Linked DNA regions of Homo sapiens. The protein of the gene in region 1 purifies or fractionates together with the protein of each later gene. This does not show direct contact. Each region holds a gene or a part of one and is shown in the gene's direction. Other genes may lie near its edges.

What was found. The genes of interacting proteins can lie anywhere in the genome.
Region 2: the proteins of TMEM192 (region 1) and STK11IP purify together in Homo sapiens (affinity purification with mass spectrometry; 2 studies listed by BioGRID and IntAct, with this or other methods). This does not show direct contact.

The regions. Positions count from the first base shown.
Region 1 is NC_000004.12:165,099,126-165,102,874, reverse strand, and holds part of TMEM192 (transmembrane protein 192), read left to right. Parts: intron 1-1,982; coding exon 1,983-2,247; intron 2,248-3,749.
Region 2 is NC_000002.12:219,600,814-219,604,562, forward strand, and holds part of STK11IP (serine/threonine-protein kinase 11-interacting protein), read left to right. Parts: intron 1-421; coding exon 422-627; intron 628-827; coding exon 828-902; intron 903-1,174; coding exon 1,175-1,270; intron 1,271-1,654; coding exon 1,655-1,762; intron 1,763-1,891; coding exon 1,892-1,963; intron 1,964-3,749. UniProt on the Homo sapiens protein: May regulate STK11/LKB1 function by controlling its subcellular localization.

The DNA.
Region 1 (3,749 bases):
TGTGCTGTATCTATCAACATTTAAAATGTAGGGCACATGTTCTTAGGACATCCTGAGTGCTGTGTCATGGGCAAAAAAAAAAAAAAAAAAGTACGTACACTTTTACTTATATCTTCAAATAATTCATTGTGGATATATTTGCACACATGTAAAGATATTGTTGATAATAGCCATGTTGTCTGTCATATCAAGAGACTACAAACTACCTGGCTACTTGGCATCCAGAAGACACTGTGTGTCCCATTCATATAAGGAAATGCTATGCAACTGTTAAGAATGGGGTGGATAGGTATACAGTATATTAACATAGAATAGCCTTCATGATTACATTGTCGAGTGAAAAAAAATCAAGTTTTCAACCTTGTGTACAGAATGTTCCTATCTGCAGTTTTTAAAAGGGAGTTGAGAGGGCTGTTGTGGACCTGTTTTCCTGTATATAATAGAATATTTCTAGAAGCATTCACAGACCTAGTTGCCTCTGAAATGAGGACTGAGGGTCTTGGTGGAAGAGACACTAATATAATTTACTGTTTACTTTTGAATACTACTTGATTTTTTAACCATGTGCTTGTATTACTTTTTCAGTTACAAAAAAGATGCAGAAAAGTCTACATATGTTGACACAGGAATTTATCAATTTACTTATACCTAGGGAATAATGTTTAGCAGACAAATCAAGTTGCAGTGGAATAATATGTACAATTTTTGTATGATGACAAAATTACAACTATCTGGAGTTTATAAAAACACATGTGCAAAAGGTCTTATCGCAGGCCTCACTGGTGGTGACTCCACTGCCAGTCTGTTTAATCAGTTCCTCCCTTTCGACGATTGCAGTTGGAAGCACTAGGGGTTATAGTTGTTCTCTGCTGCAATGTGAAAAATCAAGAGGGCTCATTCTCACCACTCCTTGAGTATTTACGAGGACTGTGAATGGAGTTGATTGACTTGCTCAGCCTCTGCTCAGCCTCCTACTGATAGGTTTGCCTGTCTGCAGGGACCGTATCCCTCAGCACATTTCCTGGCTTCCCCTGCAGCTGGGATTCCTCTCCAGTGAAGTGCACTGTGGGAGACTTGAGTTCAGAACTGAATCACTGGGGAGAGAGGTGGTATCCCCTTTCCTTGAGGGAACTAGTAGCTGTGGTATGGCTCCACCATGGCTTCCTGATCCCCAGATCCCAGCTGAAGCGCTTTCTTCTTGGTACCACCATGTGCAGGGGTGGCCTTGTGGTTTCCAGATGGTGACCTCTTTTTCTTCTTTCCTTTTACTTTTTGTGTAACATACTCTGTACCAGCCTGGGTGCCATAGCAAGAACCTGTCTCTATAAAAACTTCTTAAAATTGGCCAGGCATGGTGGCACAGGCCTGTAGTTCCAGCTACTCCAGAGACTGAGGTAGGAGGATCGCTTGAGCCCAGGAGGTTGAGGCTGCAGTGAGCAGAGATGGCACCACTGCACTCCAGCCTGGGCAACAGGGCAAGACCGTATCTCACACAGAAAACAAAAATACATTTAAACAAAACAAAACGAAAATACATTTAAAAACTCATTTATAAAAATAGGACAGGGGAAGCTGTAGGTATAAGAATGTATGCTGGGAAGCCGGGTGCGGTGGCTCACACCTGTAATTCCAGCACTTTGGGAGGCTGAGGTGGGTGGATCATGAGGTCAGGAGATCGATATCATCCTGGCTAACATGGTGAAACCCCGTCTCTACTAAAAATGCAAAAAGTTAGCCAGGCGTGGTGGCGGGTGCCTGTAGTCCCAGCTACTCGGGAGGCTGAGGCAGGAGAATGGCGTGAACCCGGGAGGTGGAGCTTGCAGTAAGCCGAGATTGCGCCACTGCACTCCAGCCTGGGCGACAGAGTGAGACTCTGTCTCAGAAAAAAAAAAAAAAAAAAAAAGAATGTATGCTGGGATGGTAGTTATTGCTTCCTAATTACAAATATTGAATATTAATCTTTCTGCTCTCCTTTCCCCCAGCTCGTGTTTGTTGTTTTAGCATTTTTAACAGGTGTGCTTTGTTCTTATCCTAATCCAAATGAGGACAAGTGCCCAGGAAATTACACAAACCCATTGAAAGTTCAGACGGTTATAATCCTTGGGAAAGTTATTTTGTGGATTCTCCATTTACTCCTTGAATGCTACATCCAGTATCACCACAGCAAAATCAGAAACCGAGGCTATAACTTGATCTACCGATCAACAAGGCATCTCAAGAGACTTGCGTTGATGATACAGTCCTCTGGTATGTCCAATTTTCTCTCAGCTACTTGGGTGCTTGAGGGACAAAAATGACAGCAGAAAGAATATATGAAGTTTGATTTTAGAATCAAATATATTCTCTCATTTTTGTAAGGTTGATGTGTGTTCTGACCACTAAAATTTGGATCACCTTAATGTCTTAAAGCTTTTCTTGGCCGGGTGCGGTGGCTCACGCCTATAATCCCAGCACTTTGGAATGCTGAGGTGGGCAGATCACGAGGTCAGGAGATCGAGACCATCCTGGCCAACATGGTGAAACCCCGTCTCTACTAAAAATACAAAAATTAGCTGGGCGTGGTGGTGCATGCCTGTAATCCCAGCTACTCAGGAGGCTGAGGCAGGAGAATTGCTTGAACCAGGGAGTCAGAGGTTGCAGTGAGCTGAGACTGTGCCACTGCACTCCAGCCTGGCAACACAGCGAGACTCCATCTCAAAAAAAAAAAAAAAAGAACTTTTATTATGAAATATATAGCCTTAATTTTCATTTGAAATCTGTTATTTGTTATGAACATGGTGTCCTCATAGCATGTGTGAAGTGTGGAATTATACCCTCTTTTGTTACCAGGTGGTTTACTCATCTCATAAAGATAGAAATGCTGTTGCTATTTGACATTTCTGAGGATAGGGAGAGGGAATTTTTAAATTTTATTTTATTTTCTCTGAGGCAGGGCCTTGCTCTGTCACCCAAGACTGAAAGGCAGTGGGGCCTTCATGGCTCACTGTAGCCTGGAATTCCTGGGCTTAAGCAATCCTCCCACCTCAGCCTCCTGAGTAGCTGAGACTACAGGTGCATGCCACCACACCCGGCTAATTTTTTTAAACATTTTATGTAGAAGCAGGTTCTCACCATGTTGCCCAGGTTGGTCACTGGAACTCCTGGCCTCAAACAACCCTCCTGCCTCAGGCTCCCAAAGCTCTAGGATTACAGGTGTGAGCCAGTCCTGGTGGGAACTTTTTAAAAATGAAGCTCAGTGCTTTTCTTGCAGTAGGAGACAGTAATGGTTAGTTCCTAGGATAGAGGACTGTTAGGCAGTGAGATGCATTATATCAAACAGAAAACTTGGAAAACACACAGGTCCTAATTTATGAAGGCAAGATCAGAAGGTCCACATGAGACTTAGAATGCATGAGTACTTGCTTTTCTTTATCGTTGCAGACATTTTAAAGATTTAATGGAATTAAATTGAACTTCTTTAGGTAAATTTGGCATTAAGTTATAGTAAATGGCCGGGCACAGTAGCTCATGCCTGTAATCCCAGCACTTTGGGAGGCTGAGGTGGGCAGATCCCTTGAGGTCAGGAGTTTGAGACCAGCCTGGGCAACATGGAGAAACCCCTCTCTACTAAAAACACAAAAATTAGCCAAGTGTGGTGGTGTGCCCCTGTGGTCCCAGCTACTCTGGAAGCTGAGGTGGGAGAATTGCTTGAGCCGAGATCATGCCACTGCACTCCAGACTCCAGCCTGGGTGACAGAGTGAGACCCCAT
Region 2 (3,749 bases), on another chromosome or scaffold:
ATATGAAAATTCAGCAGTATTACTTCTTGAGGCGGCTTCCTGGAGGAGGCTGGTCTCAAGCTGGGCGGTGGAAGGGGGTGTCTCATAACAAGAGAGAACTGTGAACCAAGCTGGCTGTATTTCCAGCACTGTCAGTAGATGAGGCTCTTTTGAGCAGAAGGTGAAAGAAAATTTGGAAGAGTTGGTTGGAGTTGTGTAGCCAAGCAGTCTCATCAGGCTGAATGAAATGTTAGGACTTTTTTTGAAGATGAGGGGAGCCATTGAATGCTTTTGAGCTGAGAAGGAGATAGAAAATTTGATCCTGCAATAGAAGATCTACAATATGGATTGGAGTGGGTATATTTTGGCATCATAGAGCCTTAGAATAAAGAGAAAAATCTTTTCACTGTGTCTTCCCTCCTGTTTGCCCCTTTTTCTGCAGGGGATGTGGTCCTGTCTGGCTGTAGCACCCTGAGCCTGCTGACTCCCACACTGCAACAGCTGAACCACGTATTTGAGCTGCACCTGGGGCCATGGGGCCCTGGCCAGACAGGCTTTGTGGCTCTGCCCTCCCATCCTGCCGACTCCCCTGTTATTCTTCAGCTTCAGTTTCTCTTCGATGTGCTGCAGAAAACACTTTCACTCAAGGTTCTGGGTGTGGGGAAGAGGCAGGATGTGCAAGGAGCCCAAGAGAATGATGGAAGTTGGGGATAGGGTAGGGGTGCAGAAGTCTGCAGTGCCAGGATCCAGAGGGTGTCAGAGGTACCAGTGGTTGTGCTAAGGAAGGAATGTTGAGGGCAGGAAGATCTGCTGTGCCTCAGTAAATTGAGTTTTTTTTTTTTTTTCAGCTGGTCCATGTTGCTGGTCCTGGCCCCACAGGGCCCATCAAGATTTTCCCCTTCAAATCCCTTCGGCACCTGGAGGTATGGGGACACGGGGGGATGTTGGTGCACAGCACCCAACTTGAGGCAGCCCCTTGGGGATGGGAAAGAGAAGAGCCTCTTTGGTGAGGAGGCCAGGCCTGAGTATACCCATTGCTCTGCAGTCATGTGATATCCACTGTCTTTCCATTTACTGCTTCCCTAAATCATAGCTGGGCTTTGTGGTCTTCTCCCTCCTCCCAACTAGGGGATGGGGATGAGGTCTTTGTCTTCTGTGGGGTTCTGCCTTCCTCCCTCCTCTTTCCTTGTCCCAGCTCCGAGGTGTTCCCCTCCACTGTCTGCATGGCCTCCGAGGCATCTACTCCCAGCTGGAGACCCTGATTTGCAGCAGGAGCCTCCAGGCATTAGAGGTAAGGAGAGTGAGGGGTGAGCTCAGACACCTCAACTTGAGAGATGTAGAAGACCAAGCTCTGATGTTCTCCCCTCTCTGCAGCTCTCCCTGCCTCCTGCTTCCCTCTAGACAGTGTCCTCACTCCCTCTCTGTGTTCCCGCAGCACTCTGTAACTGCCTGTATATTTATAGTCGTACCTACCATATTATATTACATATTCTAGTGTCTACCTTCCCACTGTCCCTACAGTGAGTTCTTGGGTCAGGGACCTGGGCTTTAAGCCTGTATCTTCAGATGGAGTTCAGTGTATAAAAAATGAATGAGTGACTGGGTGGTAGAGCTTGGCCTTGGCATAGGGAGGAAGGGGAGGGTGGGGTAATGAAGCACCCATCTGTCTGCTCAGGAGCTCCTCTCAGCCTGCGGCGGCGACTTCTGCTCTGCCCTCCCTTGGCTGGCTCTGCTTTCTGCCAACTTCAGCTACAATGCACTGACCGCCTTAGACAGCTCCCTGGTGAGTGCCTCAGAGGGAAGAGGGTTTCGAGGAAGGGCAAGGCCAGGCCTTTGGGGAGGAGGGCCAGCTGGTTGACCAGATAGTATTGTAGTGAACATCGATTCTCTGCCTCCTCCCCGTCTCTCTCAGCGCCTCTTGTCAGCTCTGCGTTTCTTGAACCTAAGCCACAATCAAGTCCAGGACTGTCAGGGATTCCTGATGGTGAGTATGGGCAGTTTGGCAGCTGGCACACCATGGGTCTTTGATTGCTCTGCTCTCACTCTCTCTCCTTGACCAGCTTTTACTCCCACCTTGCTCTTGCCATGAGGGTGGAGCTGCATTCTGGGAGATAGCACTGCTTAGACACTAGCATCAGACAAACCAGAGTTCATATCTCAACTTCTAATACCTGTGCAACTTTGAGCAAGTTAGTTACCTCTTGGTTTCTTTACCTGTAAAGTAGAAATCACAAGAGTACCTGGTTTTTTTTTTTTTTTTTTTTTTTGAGATGGAGTCTCGCTCTGTCACCCAGGCTGGAGTGCAGTGGCGCAATCTCAGCTCACTGCAACCTCTGCCTCCCAGGTTCAAGCAATTCTCCTGCTTCAGCCTCCCAAGTAGCTGGGATTACAGGCACGTGTCAACACACCTGGCTAATTTTTGTATTTTTAGTAGAGATGGGGTTTCACCATGTTGGTCAGGCTGGTCTTGAACTGCTGACCTCAAGCAATTCACCTGCCTTGGCCTCCCAAAATGCTGGGATTACAGGCATGAGCCACCACGCCCGGCTGAATACCTGCTTTTATAGTATTAAAATGATTGTGAAGAAGTACCCAATGTTGCTTAGTCTAGTGCCTAGCTCAGAAACTGGTAGCTTTTGTGATTATGATGAAGAACCTTTCTTCTGGGTCCTCCCATCCACCTGTCAGAGATAAAGCCGAACTAGTTAAAGTGGTAAGGACAGATTTTTTTTTTCTTTTTTTTTTTGAGGCAGAGTCTTGCTCTGTCACCCAGGCTAGAGTGCAGTGGTGTGATCTTGGCTCACTGCAAACTCAACCTCCTGGGTTCAAGCAGTTCTCCTGCCTCAGTCTCCCGAGTAGCTGGGATTACAGGTGCCCGCCACCATGCCCAGCTAATTTTTGTATTTTTTAGTAGAGATGGGGTTTCACCATCTTAGCCAGGCTGGTCTTGAACTCCTGACCTCATGATCCGCCCACCTCAGCCTCCCAAAATGCTGGGATTACAGGTGTGAGCCACCGTGCCCGACCAAGTAAGGACAGATTTTTTATCAGTGATAAACTATTGCAGCGGGGAAGAGGGTGCAACCTGAACTGAACGCCACTTCAATTTGTGCAGAGGTGGCTGGGCATTTTAAAAGGAGAGTGAGGGAATAGGAAGGGGAACTGTGAGGGCTTGAGCAGAGTAAGGGAAGTGGAAATGTACGAAAAGCAGAAGTGGAGGTTGATTCACATGAAGCCCTTCTGGGTTTGCTAAAAGTTAGGCTCCTACCTTCCCACAGAGACTGGGAGATGGGAGCCCTGTCATCAGGTGTTGGCTAGAACAAATGGGAAATTCTTTTGGCAGCCTTGACTTTTCCCAGGCAGGAGCTTAAGGGGGCTAGAGTCACCATTCTAGGGATGCATCCTTGAGATATTAGAACTTTGCTGTTTTTGTTCAGGTTTTTTACTGTGGGGGTTGGAGGAGTCAACAAAAATAATTTGTGTTGAATTTTGTTGAACTTGTGCTGAACAAGTCTGCAGTTCTTAACAGGCCAAAGTTGAGGCCTAGTCAAAAAGAAGGCCCAGAGGAGCCTGAGTAGGGTTTGATCAAGGTGAGAACCTCCTCTAATTCAGGGAAAGAAGAGACACTCCTCTTTCCCCTGAACAATATAAATCCTTTTCTTCCTTGATCACCTTTTGTTCACTAAAAACCAACTGAGCCATTTATTGGGACTTGGTAGTGGATGAATTTTGCTGGATGGTGAGAGTGACCAGGCATTTAATGGGGGACA